Linked DNA regions of Homo sapiens: all the other regions are linked to region 1. The links come from fine-mapping of genetic effects on gene expression. A gene starts in region 1. Each other region holds a variant in brackets. All regions are shown on one strand. Distances are from middle to middle.

What was found. PIP is the estimated chance that this variant, and not a neighbour inherited with it, causes the effect.
Region 2: its variant is fine-mapped to the expression of NCK2 in whole blood (TOPMed, PIP above 0.99).
Region 3: its variant is fine-mapped to the expression of NCK2 in whole blood (INTERVAL, PIP above 0.99).
Region 4: its variant is fine-mapped to the expression of NCK2 in whole blood (TOPMed, PIP 0.96).
Region 5: its variant is fine-mapped to the expression of NCK2 in whole blood (INTERVAL, PIP above 0.99).
Region 6: its variant is fine-mapped to the expression of NCK2 in tibial artery (GTEx, PIP 0.95).

The regions. Positions count from the first base shown.
Region 1 is chr2:105,742,728-105,746,816 of GRCh38, reverse strand. It overlaps NCK2 (NCK adaptor protein 2), which reads right to left and starts at 1,905. Exons shown (of 5, transcript NM_003581.5): 1 at 1,679-1,905. RefSeq lists enhancers at 595-644, 745-814 and silencers at 1,185-1,574, 1,685-1,744, 1,935-2,254.
Region 2 is chr2:105,767,876-105,771,964 of GRCh38, reverse strand. All of the region lies in intron 1 of NCK2 (NCK adaptor protein 2), which reads right to left. Among named protein-coding and RNA genes, the nearest start is that of NCK2, 25 kb to the right of the region's middle. RefSeq lists enhancers at 1,727-2,229, 2,230-2,732. The variant C/T (reference allele first, on the strand shown) is at 1,782.
Region 3 is chr2:105,778,459-105,782,547 of GRCh38, reverse strand. All of the region lies in intron 1 of NCK2 (NCK adaptor protein 2), which reads right to left. Among named protein-coding and RNA genes, the nearest start is that of NCK2, 36 kb to the right of the region's middle. The variant C/T (reference allele first, on the strand shown) is at 1,949.
Region 4 is chr2:105,834,310-105,838,398 of GRCh38, reverse strand. All of the region lies in intron 2 of NCK2 (NCK adaptor protein 2), which reads right to left. Among named protein-coding and RNA genes, the nearest start is that of NCK2, 91 kb to the right of the region's middle. RefSeq lists an enhancer at 3,182-3,231. The variant G/A (reference allele first, on the strand shown) is at 2,432.
Region 5 is chr2:105,676,243-105,680,331 of GRCh38, reverse strand. No RefSeq gene overlaps it. Among named protein-coding and RNA genes, the nearest start is that of NCK2, 67 kb to the left of the region's middle. The variant C/T (reference allele first, on the strand shown) is at 2,052.
Region 6 is chr2:106,021,482-106,025,570 of GRCh38, reverse strand. No RefSeq gene overlaps it. Among named protein-coding and RNA genes, the nearest start is that of ECRG4, 42 kb to the left of the region's middle. The variant A/G (reference allele first, on the strand shown) is at 2,294.

The DNA of each region.
Region 1 (4,089 bases):
ACCTTCTCCAATCAAAACTACATCTAACCAACCTCCAGGGCAGAATATACTGAGGTAGGATTTTCCCTCGTGTTCACTTCTTCACAAGCAGGTTAACACTTGCTTCTCAGGAAACCCCTGTTCCAAACGTCAAAAAACCTCCATGTCTAGCCCAATCTCCAGGTGAAGTCAATTTCTTCTCCACGTGTCCGATGACTGCCATTCTCTTTACGTAAAACTCGCAAGGCTTGAATCCTGTTACTAATTCACCTGCTTATCTATGAAGCTTGCAAAGTGAATTGAGGGAGTGTTCACACGCACAGTTCCGTTTTGGTAAGTTAAAGCGGCCCAGGTTAATTTCATTTTCAGTCACTTTTGAGACTTGATAACTACATCTAAAACAGAGGCATGAAAAACACCCTGAATCACTTTCATTCCTACACAAAATCCCTTCCGAGAAGCGGGGACTGCGCCTGGGCCAGGAAGGGACTCCCCTACCTGTAGGTCCCAGCAAGCCACGCCCACCGGCCTCTCAGGGTTGTTTCTTTCTGGGTCGAGGGACGGAGCTGGCCCTTGCGATATTTTAGGCCCCCTCCTGCCCACACTGGGGCCTGCTCATCCCATTATGCAGATGCAAACTTGGCAGAAGCAGCCTTAAACCTGTTGGCAAAATAAACAAAGCCAAATAAAGAGGAATCTGCCAACCTGAATTGTGTGAAGTGGCCAAGGCCGACTCCACGCACGCTCGGCTTTGTCCCTGAAGCTGTTACAATACTAGTTTAAGTCAGGTGCCTGGGGTCCACCAGCCAATGACCCCTAGCATCCACCGCAGACCTTCACAGAGATCCCCATTGTCTACAAATTAAAGCGTTTTGCAAATTAAACCCCTCCACACAATGCCAAGCTAACTGTGCTCATAAGGCAGTTACCCTCCATGCCTTAAAACTCACATATCAAATTTTTCCAAAAGCACTCGGTGATTAAATCGCCCTGAAAAAAACCGAGAGAGCCGAGCGATTGTGAGAAACTTTGGTTCATTCAGGTGGCTGTTAGAGTCCTGTAAATCTGGGGCAGGGCGCAGAGCCTGAAGCCGGGCACAAAAGCTCCCTTCGCCGAAGCGAGGACCTCCTTTATGCAATGTGACAGCAGCTTTGTGCGCGAACATAAATAGTTGTAATAAACACGGTTAAGTTCTCCCGGCCGATCGCGGCCTCCCCCGTCCCTGCGCCGGGGCCCTGCGATCCGCGGCTATTCTTCCCCGGCACACGCGCCCTGGCGACCCTGGCCACCGCACGGTCCCACGCTAGCCCCGAGCTCCGTGCCGGCCGCCCGCCTGCAGGCCAGGCGCAGCCTGCGCACCCGGGGGTCTCCAGTCCCCGGGCCCCGCAGCCGGGCCCCCTGCCCTGATCCTCGCCCGCGCCCTTGGCTGGCGTCCCCGCCCCTGGGCCGGCCCCCGATGGTGGGGGTTAGGGATGGGAAGGCGGGCAGGAAGGTGCAGAGCCGGGAGGTGCCCGGCAGTCCGCGGTCGGGGGCGCCCAGGCCGCGGCAGGGCCGAGAGCACCGGAGGGGCGCGGAGGGGACCCGCTCTCCTGGCCCCTTCCCGGGCGCACCCCGGCCCGCGAGCCCCGCCGCGCTCCCAACTCCGCCCAACGGCCCCAAGTTTGTGGCCCCCGCCCCACGCCCGCCTAGCCGCGCTTACCTCGCCGTGGGCCGCCCGCGGAGCCGGAGGGCAGCGGCGCGGGTCCCGGGGCGGTGGCCGCGCTGCGCCCGCCCAGGCGCCGCTCTTTGTCTGCGCCGCTCCCTCCTCCCGCCGCCGGGCGGACGCTGCCGGCCCGGGCGGACCCTGCCGGCCCGGGCGCCGCGAGCCTCCCGGCCGCCAAGCCCTCCCCTCCGCCCGCCGCCCGCTCGGCCGCGCGGCTCCGGCCTGACGATCCCCGCGGCAGCGGCGGCGGCGGCGGCGGCGGCGGCGGCGACCCTCCCCCGGCGCGCAGCGCCCGCCTCCTCCGCGCTCTTCCTCCTCCTCCCGCGCTCCTCCCCGGCCGCGCCGTGACGCCGCCCAGGGGCCGGCCCAGGCCCGGGCGCGCGGGGCGGGGACCCGAGACCCACCTGGGGCGCCCCCCGTCGTCGCCAGGCTCCGCGCCCGGGTCCCGGTACGGGCGCCGGGATAGCGCGGGGCTGCGGGACGCTCCGCTCTGGAGGCGCAGCACGGGCCGGGCGCCGGGGGCAGGAAAGGGTCCCCACGCCCGAAATTGCGTGCGGGCGGTGGGGGGCAGGGTAGGTGGGTGGGGAGGAGAGTGAAAACACAGACGGCAACTTCCAGCCTGGGATGACTGCCGGGTGGGCTTTGCGTCCTCTTTTTTGTTTGTTCGTTGTTCTTATCACGAAGCTCTAGTTGCTGGGCAGCCGCCCCCCTCCCGGAAGCATTCCCACGGCACTCAGCTAAGCAGGCCTGTTGTCCATCAGAAAAGTGACTTAAATAAAAATGTCACTTCCTCCCTGTAATTGCTTGTGGGCATTTTTATTTATTTGCTTTGCATCTATTTACTTTCCCAACCAGACACATTTTTAGTCCATCATCCCTGTCCGAGGCACTTCCTAAAAGAAGAAGAAACTCGACCTCTGTTGCCTCCCAGGCATCCAGGCCAGCCCCAGCCTGTGGAATCCTGGTTGCACACCCGTGGGGGCAGAACCCGAAGAGGAGCTGCCCGAATGTGCCCCTAGAAGGAGTGTCGCTAATGATGGGACCGTTCAGCTCACCCAGCCTCGAGTTGTGGCTAGCCTATAAACAAACTTGGAAGATGAAAACCCAAGAGCAAGGGGAAAGACACAAGTTTCCCTTTCACAGACACATGCATCCGGATGTCTTTTCTCCTCCCCATATGGTTTCCCAAAGGAAATCCTAATATTCAAATGATTCTGATTTCCTGGCAGGATAGCCTGCATCCATGTTAATGAGATTCTTTCTTAGGCTCCTGGTCTCTGCTTACTATTAAGGCAATAATAATTTACCCAAGGTTACAAGGCTGTATTATTTGATTCACTCATCTCCTGCTTCCTTCCAGAAGGGAAGTACCCAAGGATAGGTAACTAGAGTCAGCGTAGCTTTGAAGTCAGACAGGTGAGTGTTTGACTGTTGACTTCCTGAACTGTGTAACGTTGCACAGGTGGTCCTCAGCCTTTCTAAAATCTGTCATATGGGGAGATAATATTTACTTACCTCCTATGTGAAGTACCCTGGCAGTAGGTAGCCCTCAATAGCTCAGTAAGTGGAAGGAAGCACAGTACACTGAGCAGGAATCAGGTACAAGCTCAGGGAATCAGAACAGCCTCATTTTTCCTTGTTTTGACCTTGTGAAAGAAGCTACTTCAGTTCATCCTTTTGTGCAAGTTTTGTGTTACTAATATCTAGCTTTACAATAAGAAAAGAAGAATTCTAGTCATCAGTCTGCCCAATTTTAGATTAATTTACTCAAAATAAGTATAGCAATATTGACCCAGTTTGTAGCTTGTTTGCTTTGTAAACTTTCACTGAATCGTGGTTCTTGCATGCCTCTTCTTTCTCTGATTCTTTAGAAGTCACCGATGTCATTCTCTATCTAAATCCAGTGGCCCTTTATCAATCTTTATCCTGTGGAGTTTTCTGAAATATGTGGCATTTCTGCTATTTCCTGAAACACCATCATCTTTTCATTCATCAAACACAGCCAGTTCTGATTCTCTTACCTTTCTGACCTGCCCATCTGCCTCCTCTAGAGAGGTTGTTGTCTTCCCACCCTGTAAAAGTGATATCCCCAAGGCAGATGGTGGCCCTTTGTTTTTATTCTGATACGCACCTTTTTTTTTTAAAGAGAGAGTTGATTGTTTTTTGTACACTCCCTGTCTAAACCTTCATTGATTAACCCCCAGACCTGTAGCCTTAGAGAGCTCCCCTGCTAATCTGCAGAGCTCCCCAGCTAATCTGCACCCCCTAAACATGGCGCAGCATCTCTTCTAGGTCACCATGTTCAAAATGAAACTCATCTGCTCCCCAGACCAGCTCCTCCTCCCATGGTTTCAGGCCTGGCCAAGAGTCTACCAGGCACCTCAGCTCCTGGGAGAAATCTCATTGTT
Region 2 (4,089 bases), 25 kb before region 1:
TGGGAGGGAGTGGAAAATGAGGCCCTGGAACAGCCCTGGGAGGGAGGAAGTCAGTCTGAGGAAGCTTCTGGGAACAGCTGCGGAGAAAAATATAGATCTGAGTGATGGGCAGGCCTCACAAAGGAATGGCAGCTTTCACACCAGAGGGTTTTTACTTCAGACAGAAGAAAACAATGGTTAGAAAAAGCTGCCAGTAGCGGTCAACCCAGGTACATGCTTTTTCTAGAAAGCTTTATGAACTCAAAGCAAATCTCAGTAGCCTCTATTTGAGAAACATCAGCTTTAAAAAAGCTGCCTTCTATTGATAAGAAAAGAACATTACTTTCTACCTAAGTGACATGATTAGAAACAATGGGAAACTTCTTGAAATATTTGTCTAAATTAGGTCTTTCTGTTTTTGAGAGGGAGTTCCACTCTTGTCGCCCAGGCTGGAGTACAGTGGCCCAATCTCGGCTTACTGCAACATTCACCTCTCGGGTCAAGTGATTCTCCTGACTCAGCCTCCCAAGTAGCTGGGATTACAGGCGCCCTCACCACACCCAGCTAATTTTTATATTTTTAATAGAAACGGGGATTCACTATGTTGGTCAGGCTGGTCTTGAACTCCTGACCTCAGGTGATCCACCTGCCTCAGCCTCCCAAAGTGCTGGGATTACACACGTGAGCCACCCCGCCAGCCCTCATGTTTTTTTACTAGAAAGTCAGAATGGAAAATATAAAAGGGGATAGAAATAGTGATATTGGGCGGGGCGCGGTGGCTCACGCCTGTAATCCCAGCACTTTGGGAGGCCAAGGCAGGCGGATCACGAGGTCAGGAGATCGAGAGCATCCTGGCTAACAGAGTGAAACCCCGTCTCTACTAAAAATACAAAAAAGTAGCTGGGCATGGTGGCGGGCGCCTGTAGTCCCAGCTACTCGGGAGGCTGAGGCAGGAGAATGGCGTGAACCCGGGAGGCAGAGCTTGCAGTGAGCTGAGATCGCACCACTGCACTCCAGCCTGGGCGACAGAGCGAGACTCCGTCTCAAAACAAAAACAAAAGCAAAAACAAACAAACAAACAAAAAGAAATCATGATATTAACATCAGAATTGCCAAACACTGAAGATTGAAATGATAAGCAAACTGAAATGCCAAACTGTTTAACCCAAAATGACTTCCTGGATCTGAAATACTTTAAAGGGGTAGAAATACATTTTCAGAAGTATTATTTTTCTTGACCTGTTAAAGATCTTTAAGTTTAAAATAATGAAAAATAATTCAGATTACTAAATATCGATATCCATATCCTAGGCAATATAGCACTCTGTGATTCACACAAGAATCAAATCCGAATCACTGACCTGATCATTTTACAGATCAGTGGTCTGTTTCTAGAGCATATCTACACACTCTAAAAATGACAGATATTCTATAGCCTTCTACTTCTAAGAAAATGATTTTAAATATGATCAGTTATGTAAACACACATTCGCATACACACACACAACCTTACAGTAAGTTTCAGGCCTTCTTAGTTGTAAGAAAAGCACTGTACTTTTTAATCAGGACACATAAATCTACCTCTCAAAAGATCAAAGCCAGATGCAAACATCATCCTTTAAAAAGATCTCAGCATTAGATAGAGCCACTAAGTTTACCTCTAACTGGAGTCACACTGTAACAGAAATTTCAATCATGCTCTTAAAGTTCAAAGAATTCTGTAGAAAAGAATTCTGTCCAGAATATTAACATTTTTTTGAAGTCTGATTCTTAGAAATTCCTTTAGCAACCACACCCCATGT[C/T]CACAGCACCATCCTTTTTCTTGTTGCAATATACCTTTTTCTTTTTTTTTTTTTTTTTTACTTATTAGTGCTTTATGTTACATGAAATTAAGTGCAAAAATACTTAAATAATGCTGTGTGCCAGGCACCACTCTCAATGGTTTGACTCACTGTACTCTGCACAATCACCCATTTTCCAGTGAAGGAAATGGAGGCACCAAGGGTAAAGTAGCCAGCACAAGTCAGACCTCATGGCGGGGCCAAGGCATTCTGGCTCCAAAATCCCGAATCAAAAAGCAGAAGGTCAAAAAATTAAAAACAAAGAAACATCACACACGGAAGGAGGAGAGGCCAAAGATTACTCCGAGGGATTAAAATCTGAGTTTTTCTCCGGTTTACCTTCTACAACTCCTTTTACTGACCACGCCTGACACACTGACACATGCATTCCCTGCCACAGTGGCTCCTGTGGCCGCCTGGCTGTACTGCACAGTGCAACTCCTCAGGGCGGAAGCTGCGTGGACCCCTGGCCCTTCTTGGCCAATGACTCTAATTACCCCATGGTTCCCTCCAGAGGGCAGTGGGCAGTGCAGTAGGTCACCCACACGTCCCATTTCTTAGAAAACCTGCAGCCATGGATGCCTAACTTCTACTGTGGAGTTATTCTTCTGTACGTTATTATAAGTAGAGTCACAATTTTTGTGCTACATTTAAACATTTTGTATCTCTAAGCTTCCTTAGAAATGTTACTATATTTTTCCTACATTTGCTTCCTGAGAAGCAAGAACGGGGGAGTTACCAGCACAGTGAGAGTCATGATTCGTCAGACCCAGGGTAGAAAAGAATGTAAAATAGGCACGCATCAGCTGTTTTACTGAGAGGAGGGCTTTAAATAGGGCGCAGCCAGCTGGGGATGGGGAGGGGAGGGGTGGGGCGGGGCAGCAGGCTGACAGGGCTGCCCAGGTGGATAATAAAAAAGATCTCTGGTCTTGGTCCCTGGTTTCTGGCATAGAGCTCCTAAAGCCCTTGGTATTTACTGAGCAACAAGAGTGCCCTTAGTGATTCATAGAGAGCCCCAGTGCACCACACCTGAGCTTATGCTAATGAGGTGACCAGTGGGGTTGGGGGGTGCCCCTAGATAGCCTGGAGGGGAGCTGGTCATTGCCAGAAAGACAAAACGTGTGATTAGAGAGTGGGAACTTTCTGCACCCCCTACACCCCAACCTCTGGGAGGGGTGGGGGGCCAGGAGACTGGGCTGCAAAAACTCTTGAAAAATGGGATGTGGGGAGCCTCCACGTCATGAACTCATTGGGATGGTGCACTAGGAGGTGTCTCCCCCAGGGGGCATGGGGACTCCCACCCCTCGTCCCATGTGTCACTTCCTTTGGGCTGTTCCTAAGTTGCATCCTTTAAAACAGGGGTGTCCAATCTTTTGGCTTCCCTGGGCCACACACACTGTAAGAATCATCTTGGGCCATACATAAAATACACTAACATTAACTGCAGCTGATGAGAAAAAGAAAATTTCAAAAAAAACTCATCATGTTTTAAGAAAGTTTAAGTATTTGTGTTGGGCCGTATTCAAAGCCATCCTGGACCGCGGGTTGGACAACCTAGCTTTATAGGAACCACTAACAATAAGCAAAGTGCCTTTCTGAGTTCTGTGAGTTGTCCTGGCAAATTATGGAACCTGAAGTGAGGTCATGGGAACCCCAATTTACAGCCAGTTGATCAGAAGTACAGGTGGCTTAGGACATGCAACTGGTGACGGAAATGGGGATGGTCTTGTGGGACTTAGCCCTCAAAACTTGTGAGGCCGGCACGAACCCTGAAAAGCTAGTGTCAGAACTGAACCAAATTAGGGGACACCTAGGTGGTGTCAGAGAATCAGAGACCTGTTTGATAACACAGCCACCGGCCACACGCGGCCACTGAGCACTCAAGGGGTGGTGAGTCCAGCTATGTCTTGCTGTGAGGGCAAACACACACTGGACTCTACAGACAGGCAAAGAAAGCAAATGAATGGCATTAGCAATTATTTGAGTATATGTTGAAATATTTTGGTTATGTTGGACTACAGAAGACTTAAAATTTGTAGCCTTTTTCATGTGGTTACTGGGAGAGGTGAAGTTACACATCTAGCACACACTGGCAGCTTATGTTCTATTTCTGCTGGACAGTGCTGCTTGAGATGTCTTCATTTCTGAAAACACAAGTACTGATGTCCATTTTTTTGTCTCAAATTTTTCACATGTAGAAAGACAGCAACTACTTAAGGATGAGAGCCGGGGATGTGAGTAATAGAGAGGGAAGGAATTAGTATTTATT
Region 3 (4,089 bases), 36 kb before region 1:
GATGAAAACATAAGACACTTCACATAGCCAGCATTCCTCAAGTGAGATTTTGTGTAGAATTTAAAGTAACTTTAATACTTAAGAAAAGAGCGTTCATTATATAGACTGTTTCTTCTCAAGTCCTCAAATGGCCATCAACCCAACTCTGACACCTGCTGTGGAGAGAGTGGAACTAGTTTTAGGGAGATTTTTGGTGGCAGAGAGAGAAGGCAGATCACTAATCCCCATGGGCTGGTGGAAGCCATCAGCAGGATGTGCCTGATAATCCATCCATCTACACCAGAAGGAAGGGCCACCCTGAGTCCCTGGGCCCGGCCACCCCGCCTGCCTACAGCCAGACCAGGAGGGTTGTCCCCTTACTCCTATAAAGAGAGGGGAAAGAGATGATCGGTGATAGGCTCCCACTCTCGCGGAAGCCCAAAAGCAACTTCCCGCAGTCATAGTAAGAACAGAGTAAGGAAGGAATGGACCTCAAACCTGGGAAACCAGGTCTTTGTCTAGGAGCTCCTCCCTCAGCTTGAGGGACCTGATGGGCCGCAGGTTTTCAGGTAATTTGGACTCACTTGGACATTCTCAACTTCATAGTCAAGAAACTGACAGCTGTATGTACCTATTTCAGTTAAAAGCATTTACGGCAAGAAATAAAGAGGGAAGAATACATATGCACGTATACCAGTTCATTCAGCAAATGCCTAATGAGCATCACTACGTGGCCAGAGTCCTTATCACAGACTCATTCCAACTGGAGAAACAGACATGTCTACAAATTTTCGTACTGCGGAGAGGCGACAGCTCTGTCACAGACAACATAAATTGCAGGATTATCACTTGCCAAGCCACAGGCTCTGTACTTTTCATGCATTGCTCTTTATTATAAACCTAACAACTACCTTACAAGACTGCTATTTTCTCCATTTTTCAGATAATAAAACTGATGCACAAAGACCTCTGCCAGCCCAAAGTCACACTATGGCAATGGCAGGTCATGATTCATGCCAGCAAACCAGATCTTAACTGCTAGGCTGTACTGCCTTCCAGGAATGAGTGCAGAAATATTACGAAACAGACGTACATGGACTAGAAGGCCAAGGAGGGTCACTAGTTCTGGCTGGGGGAATCCTGAAGGCTTCAAAAGGGAGATTGCATTTAGTCAAGTCTTGCAGTGTGGGAAGGGATGAGTGGTGGAGGTGGAAGCGGAGATGGGAGAAGGCTGCCCCTGTGTCAGCAACAGGACCTGCAAAGGCACAGAGGTGTAAAAAGTGCACGGCTCCCTTGGGAATACCTAGAGTAATCATGTTCATAAAATTCACAAGGGCTGAATGGTAGAAGGTGGAGCAAAGATCAGATTTTAAAGGTGCTTTGACAACACAAAGGCACCTCTAGGAAATGGGAAGCTAATAGTTTATAAGAAGAGAAGTAAAACAATTAGATCTGTATCTTTGAAAGCCAACCCCGGAATAGGTGGGTGGGAGGGAGAAAAATCTGAAAGCAAGAAGACAGGAAGACCACGACCAGGTGAGAGACAAAATCTAGATTCGGGCAATGAGAAAAGAGAGGGTCACTTAGTCAAGGCTGGGTGACTGTGGTAGTCCATTTGGCTGGCTGTAACAAAATACCACAGAATGGTGGCTTATAAACAAAGGAAGTTATTTCCCACAGTTGTGGAAGCTGGAAGTCCAAGATCAAAGTACCAGGAAATTCAGTGTCTGGTAAGGGCCTCCTTCCTGGTTCCTACACGGCGGCTTCTTGCTGTGTCCTCACATGCTGAAGGGGTGAGGGGGCCCTCTGGGGTGTCTTCCGTAAGGAAATTAATCCCATTTGCAAGCGCTCCCCTCTTACGACCTAATCACCTCCCAAAGGCCCCACCTCCAAATACCATCACCTTGGGGGGTAGGATCTCAACATATGAGGGACACATTCAGACCACATCAGTGACCAGGGGCTCTGA[C/T]TGGTGACTGATGTTTCAGCATAATTACAGACAGCACCCCTCCCACTCTCAATAGTGCCCAGGTATAGATGACAAAAATGTGGTTATCACTTTATTCAACATCTATATGGATGTGACACAGGACATGAGCGAGAAGCAGGATTTGAGGATGAACATTAGAATTTTAACCCAGATACCAAACGAAAATGAGAGAGCCAGAAAGGGAGAGAGTATGTGTGTGTGTCCTTTAGATGAATGTGTGTGTGTGTGTGTGTGTGTGTGTGTGTGTGTGTGTATATATCTCTCTCCCATATTATGGAAATAAATGTGACAGACATCTAAATATTTATGACTATCAGGTCCCAACTTAATCTAGATGCTGAGAAGCAATGGTTTTATTAATAGAAATTTCACTTTAAAAACCTTCCAAATATTCTACAATAAATATTTATTATTCTTGATTAATCTTGCAACCAGAAATTTTAAAACAAAGGAAATATGCTTCATTTCTAGTACGTCCAAAATATGCTCAGTTAAAATAATGCCATTGAATAAGGTAAAGGCAAAACTGGAAAAACGGAAATTAGAGTAGTTTATGAAAAGAGTAGAATTGAATTAAATAACCCAAGGAAGCACACACAGGAGGTCTTGAGAATTCGCTGAGCTGTGAAGTATGTGGATATGTACACGCTATCCTGAATGAGAGGGTGAAGGCGGTCTCGTAGGCTATGGCATTCAGGCTGTTTTCCCCATATCAGTTTCTCCTTCCTATAACTAAGGGAATTAATCCATCATACAGAACGTGAGGACTCTACAAAGCTACATTTCTGCTAGGGAATTACTATGTATATGTATGTGAGTGTGCGTTTTAAATCATGGTCTGACCAAGAGGCTCAATTCAAAAGCTGATTAGTGGGAAAAAAAAAAATCAAAGCTCTTTCCTCCTCTCCTCCACCTGCATACGTCTCCCGTGGGCGGAGAGCAAGCTCTCCTTTCCATCTGCCCACAAGGCCAAGTGTAAAGCACAAAGAATGGGCAGTCCTTTTCAGGTCTGCAGCCAGGAGGCTGCACCCAGCTCCAGGAAGCCAAGTTCAGCTGGACGCAGCCACCCACCACTTGGTAGGTGGCAGAGATGCAGCCATATTCAGACAGACTGAAGCTCTATATATAACAGTCACATGGCAATCAACTTAAAGTATCCCCTTTAGTTAATTAAAAAAGATTAAAAGCCTCAAGTCTAGGTGTTTTCTGTTTTCTTCAGGAGTGATTTTAATAAACACATTTTATGACGGATTCTTTTTTTTTTTTTTTTTTGAGACGGAGTCTCGCCCTGTTGCCCAGGCTGGAGTGCAGTGGCACAATCTCGGCTCACTGCAACCTCTGTCTCCCAGTTTCTAGCGATTCTCATGCCTCAGCCTCCAGAGTAGCTAGGACTACAGGCATGTGCCACCATGCCCAGTTAATTTTTGTATTTTTAGTAGAGACAGGGTTTCACCATGTTGGCCAGGCTGGCCAAAAACTCATGACCTCAAGTGATCCACCTGCCTCAGCCTCCCAAAGTGCTGGGACTACAGGTGTGAGCCACTGTGCCCAGCCTTATGATGGATTATTAATGAAAATTATTCTCAATTATTTGTTTTAACATTTAAATATTGAATTTCCAAGTTTAAAAAAGATATTCTTAAAGCATATTCTTAAAGCTCTTGAAAAAAAAAATAACCATTATCTCAATTAGCCTGGTATAGTGGTGTGTGCCTATAGTCCTAGCTACTTGGGAAGCTGAGGCAGGAGGATCACTGGAACCCAGAAGTTTGAGGCTGCAGCGAGCTATGATCACACCACTGCACTCCAGCCTGGGCAAGAGAGTGAGATCCTGTCTCTACAAAAATAATAAGAAATGAAAGAAGAAAAAAATAACCATTATCTCAATTGATACACATAACCAGTGCAGTAACAAGGGCATGATTTCCCAGCCTAAGGAGGAATGTGCAGAAACTCCAGTTAATAGGGGCACCTTTGGTTCACGCAGCCACCAGCATCCTGCATTACTCTGTGAGAGTTAACTCTGCCGGCAAATCCCCATGGAGAGGCTGCCCAGAACCAAGGGCTTCTTCCCTCTGCCATCACCGCCCTTCCCTGGTCCCCATGCACACAGTGTTAAG
Region 4 (4,089 bases), 92 kb before region 1:
GATAATGAAAGATAAAGTTTAGGAAAGCTCATTAAATGACTGAGAAGGCAATTGTCTAAGACTAGTTACCTGGCCAAAAAAAAAAAAACATTTTAATAAAATTCCAGCATTTAAAAATTTGCATTTATCTTTATCAACTCCAAAATTTAATTTTAAAATATGCTGCTGAACATTGAAACAAAACAAAATGCATATAGCCCTTTCGGCACAGCTGTGAGAACACAAGATTTTCTTGTGACTTGAAAATGCTAAGGTTTATAAATAGTGGTTATCTATTGCTGGTACAAAAAAAAAAAGGACTGTTCTAGTTAAACAGAAAGTCTGGCTTAACAGTGAATTCTCATGTAGGAATTATTGATTTTCATAGATCAAAATAGGATTAAATATACTTGTAAAGAAACTGTTGGAAACAGCACATATAATCGTACAGGACTGGTGTTGAATATATAAGAACTCCTACAATTCAACAACAAAAAGACCAATAACTCAATTAGGCAGCAGGCAAAATACACAGTCATTGCAAGGACAGGTAGCACAAATGGTGAATAAACATAAAAATAACTCAAGTTCATTCATAATCTGAGACCACAATACGATCCCATTTTATAGTAGATGGGTAAAAATGAAAAAGGTTGATAATGTGTTAGGAAGGTTGAAAATCAATGGGAATACACATCATGTGCTGGACAAAGTAAAACAGAATCACTACTTTGGAACCAATGTGGGCTTATCTTGTAATGCAGAATACTGACATACGTACAAGGCAGCAGCTCCACTTCTACTTATATGCAGTACAGAAACTCTTGCACTGTGCCTCAGGGACATGCACAGTGCTCAGGGCAGTACTGCTTATGACAGTTAAAGAAGAGAAAATAACCCTGATGGAGGGAAGATACATAGGTGGTATAGTCACATGATTCACTATCATACCAAGAAAGTGAAAACCAAGAAATCACCACTCCCCACACAATCACACAGATGACTTGGAGAAACAATATGCAATTGGGGAGGCGTTGGGGAAGTCAAAGGACTGCATACTACATAGATCCATTTTCATAAAGCCCTAAAACAAGCAAAATTAAACAATGTAGTTTAGACTTACATATGTGGTAAAACTAACGTTAAAAATCAAGGAGCTTGACGTCATTAAGATGGCCTACTAGAGACACACCCAGCAATCACCTCATCCACAAAGAACTAAAACAATAGATAACCACACAGCAAGTAAAATGTCCAAGGGAGAACACTGGAATTCAGCAAAGAAGCAACAAGACCCTCCGAGGGACAGAAGCTCAGGATGGCAGCACAGAGGAAAGAAAAGCAGCCAGCCAGGACTGACTCAGAGCCAAGGGGGACTCCCTGTTATAGGAAAAAGTAAGCTAAAGGTCCACAGCAGACCACATTCACACCACAGATGCCTACAATCTTAGCCAGAGCCATCATAGGCCTTGAGCCCCATAAAGGGAGGTACCTGGCATCCATGCAGTTGTTTTACTCTAGAAAGACCATTCATGCTGGGTAGCCCCTACTCCCTGAGTCCCAGGCTGCTGCAGCAAGGCACCATTTGGAGACTGGATTCACACTAGAGTGCATCCTCCTAGGGGCCCCAGCATCTCCACATCCCTGGGGTCCTGTCAACATCTCACCGTATCCACCCAAAGAGCTGCAGTGTTTTGATACCAGCTGGACCCAGCAGTGCAGCTCTAATCCCAACACCTGAACCCAAGCAGCATCCTACACCCTGTAGAACAGGTGGTCCAGCACAGAAGGAAGGCTTCCCCTAGAACAAAGGGAGCCAATGCACAGTCTCCCCAGAGCCTGAAAGCTGACTGCATGGGGCCTGCTACTACCTCCACCAACAACTTTGCTCCCTCCAGCAGTAAGCTGCCACATACGCAGCCTGGAGGCCTGAAAACCAGCCCACCCACTGTCCTTGTTTTCAGTAAAGCCACACCACGCCTCCAAAACCAACTTCAGCTTAAGCCACTGAGGCACTTGCAGACACCACTGACAGTGATTACAGTCCAAGAAATCATACGAAGACTACACTTTTACGCTCACCCAGAATCAAACCCAAAGCATCCTACCCAAATGATACTATAGCATACATCTACAAAAAACTCTGTTCCCTATGAAAGATACTCCATGAAACTGAAAAAAAGAAACTATTTCGCTAACAGTGCAGATATCAACGTACAGATACAAGAAACACGAAAAAGCAAGGAAACAATAAAACCTCCAAAGAAACACAGTAATTCTCTAATAACAGAACAAAGAAAAGGAAATCCATAAAATGCCTAAAAAAGAATCTAAAATAATGATCTTAAGGAAACTCAGTGAGATACATGGGAACATGGAAAATTCAACGAAATCAGAAAAACAATTCATGAGAATTCATGGAGAAATTCAACAGAGATATTTATCACAAAAA[G/A]TCTTGGAACTGAATAATTAAATGAATTAAATAAAAAAATTGAGAGCCTCAAAAAGAGACTAGATCAAGCAGAAGAAAGAATTTCTGAACATAGAGACAGGTCTTTTGAAATATCCTAGTCAAACCAGAATTCAGAAAAAAAGAATAAAAAAGAATGAAGAAAGCCTACCTGACATGTGGGATCCTATTAAGCAAACATATATTCATATTTTGGGATTTCTAAATGGAGGAGAGATGGAGAAAAGCATAGAAACCCTCTTTAATAAAGTAATAGCAGGAAACTTCCCTTTGTGGGAGAAAGAATCCAGATCCAGGAAACTCTAAGATCCTTAAATATATTCAACCTAAGAAAGTCCTCTCCAAGGCACATTGCAGTTCAACTGTCAAAAGTAAGACAAAGTGAGAAGTCTGAAAACAGCAGGAGAAAAACATCAAGTAAAATAAAACAGAATCCTCATCAAAATAACAGCAGATTTCTCAGCAGAAACCTTACAGGCCAGGAGAGTTCACTATGATATATTCAAAATGCTGACCAAAAAAAAAATATATATATATATACACGTATATATATATATATATGTGTATATATATGTATATATATATAAAACCAGCCAAGAATACTATACCCAGCAAAGCTATCCTTCAAAAAGGAAGAAGAAATAAAAGTCTTTCCCAGACAAGCAAAAATTGGAGGAATTCATCACCAGTAGACTGGCCCTATGAGGAATGCTTAAGGAAACCCTACATTTGGAAGCAAAAGAATGATATCTGCCATCATGGAAACACACAAAAGTATAAAACTCACTGGTAGTGCGAAAACATAAATGAGGAAGTGAAAGGAATCAAATATTACCACTGAAGAAAACCAGCAAACCACAAAGAAAAACAATGAGAGGAAGAAAGAAACAAAGGATATACAAAGCAACCAGAAAATACTTAACATAGTTACAAGAGTTTGCCTTCATCTCTCAATAACAACCTTGAATGTAGGGCTAGGCATAGTGGATCATGCTTGTAATCCCAGTACTTTTGGAGGCTGGGATGGGAGGATTGCTTGAGCCCAGGAGTTCAAGACCAGCCTGGGCAATACAATGAGACCCCATCTCTACAAAAATAAAAATAAAATTTAGCCAGACATGGTAGCACACATCTACCTGTAGGCCCAGCTACCCGGGAGGCTGAAGCAGGGGGGCAGTCACTTAAACCCAACAGTTCAAGGCTACAGGGAGCTATGATCATGCCACTGCACTCTAGCTTCAGTAAGAGAACGAGACCTTGTCTCTAAAAAAATAAAAAAATTAAAATTGAAAAAAAAACCCTTTAATGTAAATGAATTAAATTTCCCAATTAAAAGATATAGACTGGACAGATGGATTAAAAAACACCACCTAACTATATGCTGCTTACAAAAAACATTACCTATAAAGACACACAGAGACTGGAAGGGAAAGGATGAAAAAAAAATCTTCCACAGAAATGAAAACCAAAAGTAAGCAAGAGTAGCTATACTTATACCAGACAAAATATAATTTAGATAAAATAGACTTTAAGTCAAAAAACATAAAGTGGCAAAGAAAGTCATTACGTAATGATAAAGGAGTGAATTCAAAAAGACATAACAATTGTAAATATATATGTACCCAAGAACAGGGCACCCA
Region 5 (4,089 bases), 66 kb after region 1:
CCCAGCCTCTAGAGCAGTACCTGGCACAGTGCTACCCATTAGATATGTGTCAAGGGAATGAAGGGACTTTGAGGCCACAGGTCAAAAGCATTCCGCTGATGGCGTAGCATTTGCAAAGTCCTGTCAAAATATCCCGCTTGACTTCAGCTAGGTGTTGGGGAATTCTGAGGACCGGAGTGGTGAAGAGAGAAGTCACTTTCTAGAGGCTGGAGGAGGCAGCAGCAATAAGTAGTGAGAAATCCCCAGGCAGAGACTGAACCTCAAGGGATGGAAGTGAGTCTGCAAGGTCTTAGGTGTTAGGTGGAAATCCTGGTTTTCATTCCATTTAGGGTAATGACAGTTTCTTTCCAAGAGTTCAGGATATTTTAAAAATCATCCTGTGCTAAGAAGAACATAACAAAGTAGCCAGTGGAAGAACCGTAACAAAGTAGCAGGTGGAAAAATAACACGACTGATGGCAGTTATGGTTTTGAGGACAGGTCACATTTAGCAAGTAAAAGATGCCAGATAACTGCAGAACCAATGAGGCCTTTTGTTTGTGTAAATCGCTTTCCTCTTCCTGAGTTTCCCCAGAAGCATACCTTGAGACGAAGATTCAAAGTTAACCATTTGTTTTGGAAGGGGATCCCTGGAAACATGGGCAGGAGACAGAGAAGGGAATGCAAAAGCCAACAAAAGGTGCATTATGAAGCAAGTGATCCCGTGGGCAGTGCGGCTCAGCCTTCAGGGAAAGTACAATAGACAGTGTTGGCCATGCCTCAGTGGTGCCCCAGCAGAGGGGCAGGGAGCTGGGGATCTATCTACCCTGTCCCATTAGGGACATTAACTGAGGGTTCCTCCTCATGGGATCGACTCTCATGAGCTCCTGGCCTGCCTTTAGCATGGCACAATGGTCTCTGGCTGCCAGGGAAGCCCTTGGGAAAAATGCTCAGATGTTTGTCTCCAGGATGCAGGGAATGGTGGGTGCTCAGGGGCATGGGTGGGTAACTCTCACTGCCAGTCTGCTCCTGGAAACATGGGACATATGGTGCCCTGCAACCCAAGTGTATGTTTATCTAATTACATGGAAGAAAAGCAGGATTCCTAATCGGTGTCATAGTTTCTTGCATATCACTTTTGGGGTTTCAAGTATTAAAGTATCGTAAAGATGTTCTAGGATAGAAGGTAGACAGGAGTGAAGAGAAAACAGACAAAATTGGGAAGAACAAAGGAGTAAATGTAAGTGAAATGAAATTGCTCAGTTCAATTGATTGGGTTAGTGCTTTCCAAGATAATGAAATTCACAACAGATAAGTACACTTTGCAGTATGGTGCCCCACCCCACGGCACTCACACAGCCACATTATAATAGTCATCTGAAGACTCACCTACATACAGTGCACATGTGACAAAAGCAGCAGACATATATCACTCACGTATGTGGACAAATACACCCATCAGCAACTTCCCTGGTTTTCTACATCATGGTCATCTCCAGCTTCACCTTTCTACCTTCTGCTTCCTCCCTCAAACCCCTATAAAGGAAAATCAGAATGCCTGCATGTCTCCAGATATTAAGGGTCACCTGTGATTTAACAAGAGGTTACAATAAACTGTCCAGGGAATATAAAAACAAAAATCACAGCACCAATAAGTACTGCAAAAGAGAGACATACGTTGTGCTGAGAGTATATATTAGTAAGAATGAGCCCAACCAGGAAGGAAGGTTAGCAAGACTTCACCAAGGAAGTGATGACCGAGCTAACACGGGAAGGAAGAGTAGGAGGTACCTGGCTGAAGTGGGAGGGAAGGGCCTCCGGGGAGAAGGAGCTTTCCAGACAAATGCCATGTGACGATATTTGCCTGACTCGTATTATATAACTCACTGCATATGTGAGAAAGAGAAGAGGCATATATTGCACACATATATATAGACACACACACCCACCCACCAGTCTTAGTTAGGAGATGATGTTGCAGAATGAGAGTAGGGAATTTAGAAAGCTTTCCTGCTAAATATCTTGCAAATTCTTAGAAAGGAAAATCGACTGCACGTCATGATGAGTTGGTGA[C/T]GGGGAAGTTCAGCAGGCACAACAGTGCCCTGCCCATCTCCTCAGCCCTTACCCTTGCAGCCAGAGCCTTGGATGGTTCAACGCCAGCACCTGCATCTCTGGTCCTTTCCTGGACTCTCGAGATTCAGCAATCCAGAGAAGCAGCAAATTAATACCCCACCCAGCCCCAGCAACCTTCAACCACTGACCTGAGTTGATGGATAGACACCCCAGCTCCCTCTCCACCCTATGAGAGACACACGTTCCAGAAAGTCAGAGCTCCCCAGATTCACTGAACACCAGTTGCCTTCAATGGTAAAATGCTTAATAGCATTCTGTCCTGGCGGGGACTGCTACAGCAAAAATCCCATGAACTAGGGGGCTTGGGCAACAGACATTTATTTTTCACGGTTGTGGAGGCCCAGAAGTCCACTATCAAGGTGCTGGTGGATTTGGTTCCTGGTGAGAGCTCACTTTCTTCCTGGCTCATAGATGGTCCTTCTTGTTCTGCCCTCATGGAGGAGAGAGAAGCAAGCTCTCATGTGTCACATCTGTTCTTACAAGGACACTAACCCATCATGAGGGCTCTACCTTTATGACTTAGTCACCTCCCAAAGACCCCACCTCCTAATACTATCACATTGAGATTAGGGCATCCACAAACGAATTTAGGGAGGACATAAACATTCAATCCATAGCACATACCTTTTATTGGTTTCTTCTTTTCCCTGTCCCACATCCCTTCTTCTCTCCTCTCCTTGGAGATAAACTACTTGCCCTAGACTCCTGGTTGAGGGTCTGCTCTTGGGACACTGCAAAAAGACAGAGTAGCCAGGTTGACTTCAGGTTTCCATTCACTCGGCTCAAGGATCCTAGAAAAGAGTTTAAATGCAAAACGCCAAAGTTCAATACTTTTCTCTTCAACAGTAATGATAAAGCAAGACTTTATAATAATGAATAGCATAAGGCCCATTGCCTACAAATGAATCAAATTTGCAGGAGAGTTAGGAAGCAAGTTTTTCTAAAGGAGTGCTTAGGAGGTATTTGAATTCTCTGTTCAAAGAGAAGTTGTATGTGGCCGGGCAAGGTGGCTTATGTCCGTAATCCCAACACTTTGGGAGGACGAGGTGGGAGGCTTGCTTGAGGCCAGGAATTCAAGACCAGCCTGGGCGACACAGCAAGGCAGGTGTCTGAGACCAGCCTGGGCGACACAGCAAGGCAGGTGTCTGAGACCAGCCTGGGCAACATAGCAAGACTGCATTCCCACAAAAAGTAAAAAACATTAGCCAGGCATGGTGCCATGTGCCTGTAGTCCCAGCACCTGAGGAGGCTGAGGCAGGAGGATCACTTGAGCCCAGGAGCTCGAGGCTGCAGTGATCTATGATCATGCCACTGTACTCCACTGCGGGCAACAGAGTGAAAACCTGTCAAAAAAGAAAGAAAGAAAGAAAGACGAAAGAAAGAAAGAAAAGAAAGAAAGAAAGAAAGAAAGAAAGAAAGAAAAGAAAGAAAGAAAGAGGAAGAAAGAAAGAAAGAGAGGGAGAGAGAGGGAGGGAGGGAGAAGGTGTACAGCAGAAGTGGCCTTGGACCTGAGAGTGTATGGTTGCAAAGCTATGAGGCAAAGGTGCTGAGGGATCCTCCATCTGTGGCAGCCATGTGCTGGGCTAACAGCTAGAGAGAAACACTTTTGTTCAGGAAATGGTTCAGGTGTTAGGATAGAATTGAGAAGCTCAAGCTTTGTTTTCCAATTTCTTTTGTTATTATTATTTTTTGAGAGGCACGGTCTCTCAATGTTGTCCAGGCTGGTCTCAAACTTCAAACTCCTGGGCTCAAGTGGTCCTCCTGAGTAGCTGGGACTTGGTTTCCCAATTTTTGAAGTATGAAGTTCTTGGATTTTGTTTGCAGGACTTCAAGGACCTCTCCTGATCTAGTGACCAAAATCCTGGAAACAGCATCTAGAGAATATGTTGCCTGGTTTTCACTCCAGTACCCTTCATATGAAACCAAAGACTATTTCTATCAAGATACAAGCATTTTCCCATTGGCTGAAAAATCGGCA
Region 6 (4,089 bases), 280 kb before region 1:
CCTTCACCAGGGCTCTAAAGAGCATTTGGTTGGTTCCAAAAATAAAAACACTCCCAAAGACAAATATTTGTTAGTACTGGGAATTGCCCCCAAAATATGAGGCAGAGTCTAAACTCAATGTCCCGAAAGGAGTGGACTGGAATAAATGCTTAGGCTCTCAGAGCACCTAACTGAAGGGTACTACGCTCACTTATCAGGAAAAAAAAAAAAGAAAAGTCGACCATATTATTACTTTCTAGTCACATTTTTATTCAGGCCCACACATGAGATCTGCTCCAGGGCAGAATTTTGCAAGGAAAAAGAGGTGACACCTCTGTGAACAAGAAAATGCTTTTCCCTGGTGCCTACGGGGACATATGCTCAATATTTCTAATTTCTGAAATTCAAAGCAGTGAATAGTGGTTTATCACAAAGTTAAAGGCAGGATTTAAAATCTGGTATAGATCTCATTTGTAGCCAGAGGAGGTTGAGAAAGAAAGAAAACAAGAAAGGAAGAGAGAGAGAAGCAGAGAGAAAGAAAGACAGAGAAAGAGGCAGAGAGGGATAGCAAATGGGGAAAGAGAGAGACAGAGAGGAGAAAGAGATGAAGACATAGAAGGGGAGAGAGAGAAGGAGAAAGACAGAGACAGAGGAGAGACAGAGAGAGACAGACAGAGACAGAGAGGGAGAGAGACAGAGAACATAATTGGAAAAGTAAGAAAGATCTCTCCCATCACACTGTCTGTACTAACATCCCAAACTCAGCCCCCATCCCAGAAAAAGACAGAGAATAAGGAAAGGGAAGGATACATCTAGAAAGGGAAGGACGCATCTAGAAAGGGAAGGATACATCTAGAAATAGAGTGTCAGGTCAGAAGAGCTTAGTGAAGGACCCTTATGAGCTAAATTAGGGTTCCATGAGCCAACCTTCACCATAGGTCCCTCTTGACTCCACACCCTCAGCCAAGCCACCTGTTAGATTCTCCTGGGGCCCCTGATTTCACAGGCCCCAAGGCCCTGCCTGAGGGACAGAACAGCCCAGGGTGGGGAATGAGGCAATCGAAACCAGGGAACTCCTTGAGCTGCTAGTGTAGGCGGAGGGCAGGAGGGAGAACACATCTCCTCACACACTTCTTACGTCTACCTTTTACCTTGTAGAAAAATGTCAAAAGTCTTATTTATTGTAGCCAGGAATGCAAGGCAGGTTTCAAATTTTGGAAAGGAAAGAGCAACCTCATGTTCATTTAAAATCATAATTTAAGTCATAATTCTCCCCCCTCCCCGCTTCTACTCCCCAACTTTGGGCTAGCTGAAGCTGGTTTTAGGGCATTCCGTTCCAAGTTTGCATTCACAGATTTGCAACTTGAGTGAGCTGAGCTGGGTAAAAGAATAGCCCAGCTTCGGATGAGGACACCTGTGGGTGCTGCGTTGTCCTCATTCCTCAAGGGGAAGAGAGTGCAACAAGGATGCTTGCAGCTGCTCAGATGCTGGCTCAGGCACAAAGCATCTTCCAGCCCTGACAATGGTGCCATTTTTCTTCCAAGACCAATTGCTAAGTCCTGCAGGATTTCAGGCTTCATCAGAGATATTAAGAGTGAGCAAAAACCTTCCTGACACCAGTTCCCAGGTGTAGGGAAAACACTCAAACTTCCTCTGGGAGGTTTCCTGGCTCCTCTGATGTGGTTGCAAGAAACAAACCAATAGTAGTTAGCCAATGTGATAGCAGAAATCCACGGCAGGCAGAATAATGGCCCCAAAGATGTCCACATCCTAATCTCTAGAACCTGTGAATATATTAGGTTACATGCCAAAGGGCTATCAAAGTTGCAGATGGAATTAAGACAGCTAATCAGCTGACTGTCTTGGGCAGGTGGGCCCAATGTGGTTGCAAGGGTCTTTATAAGTGGAAAAGGGAGGCAGAAGAGAGGGAGCCAGCGAAATGCAGCATGAAGAGGACTCAGCCTGACTTTGCTGGCTCTGAAGGTGGAGGAAGGGGCCACAGCCAAGGAATGCAGGTGGCCTCTAGAAGCTGGAAAAGGCGAGGAAACGGATCATCACCTGGAAGGAAGATAGCACTGCCAACACCGTGATTCTAGCCTAGCCGTGATGGCAGGAAGATTAAATCATAAACCAGTGAAATTTGGGGGGTGAGATAGGCTCAGAGTGTAAGAGGTAAAGGACAGGAATGACTATCACTTTTTATGTAGTTTTGACTTTGTTTTTTCTTTTGAGACAAGTTCTTGCTCTGTCTCCCAGGCTGGAGTGCAGTGGTACACTCACAGCTCACTGCAGCCTCAGTCTCCTGGGCTCAAGC[A/G]ATCCATTCGTCACACCTCAGCCTCCTGAGTAGCTGGGACTACAGGTATGCACCACCATGCCAGGCTAATTTTTGTATTTTTTGTAGAGATGGGGTTGTGCCATGTTGCCAGGGCTGGTCTCAAACCCCTGAGCTCAAGCAATCTTCCTGCCATGGCCTCCTGAAATGCTGAGATTACAGGCGTGAGCCACTGTGCCTGGCCAGTTTTGACTTTTGAATTATGTGTTTTACATATTCAAAAATAAAATTAAATCAAAGAGTTTTTTAGAAGCACTCTAAACTTGGATAAACACAACACAATGATATACTATCTACCAAACTGGTTACATAAGTACATAGAAAAAAAGAATTAAGTAACTTAAAAGCTGAGCTCCAAGCATACACATTTAGTTGGACTTATTCTAAGGGTAAAAAGACCTGCAAAGAAATCTTGATCTTAGGAGTTTTGTTGTCAGTACTGGTATCGATACTGTGATTCTGGAATATTTTGAGTTATGTCCTAGAATAAAGCAATGAGTAAGGAAGAAGAGAGATACAAATATGGTGTGGAGGATATTGAGGAAGAACTCGGCAATGTATTTGTGTTGAATTGTCTTTGAATTGAAGATATCAGTATAAATCCATGATTCCAAAGATACATTCCTTAGTTCTCTCCACTGAAAGGGAGACACACTGAGGCCCTCATAGCAATGAGCATATGTAGGCCCCAGATCTTGGTTTCTTTCACCCGGATCTAAGTATCACTCTCTATCAAAAGCAACCAGGATTCCTTGGTAAATAGCTAATTTGGGTGTTGAGCAGGAAAAATATAAGATGAGCCTGGAAGTACTCAAAGACCATAGTGACCGCTAAAATGTGGCCCAGCTAGGAACCAAACCTAGGTCTTCAAATGTCAAACCCAGCAATTATTTCTACTTCACTGCCCTGTATTTCCCACCATGAAATCTGCTCCCTACTTTACACAATCTATATTTTGGTATCACTTTTAAATATTAGAATTTTGTTACAGCCATCGAAGTGGTATCTTTCTCATTTTATTTTCTCTCCTTTAATAGAAATAAAGCTTTTGAAAAGCCAATCACCAGCCTACCCGAGCATCCAGGATTAGGGTCTGTACTTCTTTTATGTTCTTGAGCAGCGTTCCTCATCCTTTTTGGCACCAGAGACCAGTTTCATGGAAGATAATTTTTCCACGGACAGGGATTAGGGGGAGTATAGGGGTGGGGAAGGGTGGTTTTGGGATGAAACTGTTCCACTTCAGATCATCAGGTACAGATTCTCATAAGGAGCATGCAACCTAAATCCCTCATATGTACAGTTCACAATAGGGTTCATGCTCCTTCGAGAACTAATGCCAGGCTGATCTGACAGGAGGCATGGCTCAGGCAGTAATGCTCACTCACTCACCTGCCACTCACCTCTTGCTGTGCAGCCCGGTTCCTAACAGGCCACAGATTGGTACCAGTCTGTAGCCTGGGGGTTGGGGACCCCTGTTCTTGAGCTCCAAAGCATGCCTGCTAAAACTCTGCTCTGAACATCCAGACCCAGCCTAGGGTAAAGAGACAACTCAGAGAGATGGATCCTTCTGCAGCGTGGCCTCCTGGTTGAGGGTGGTTATTTTTTCTCTGCATTAGTTACCCTCGTTCTTTATCTGGAGAAGGAGCAAATGGAAAAAAGGGGAAAGAGAATGAGACTTTTCTTTTAATAAGTTGAATATTGACCCTGGCCAACAAAGATTTTGGCAGCACAGATTGAAATGCATTCCTGAAACAGACTGGAAGATCTCCTTAATATGC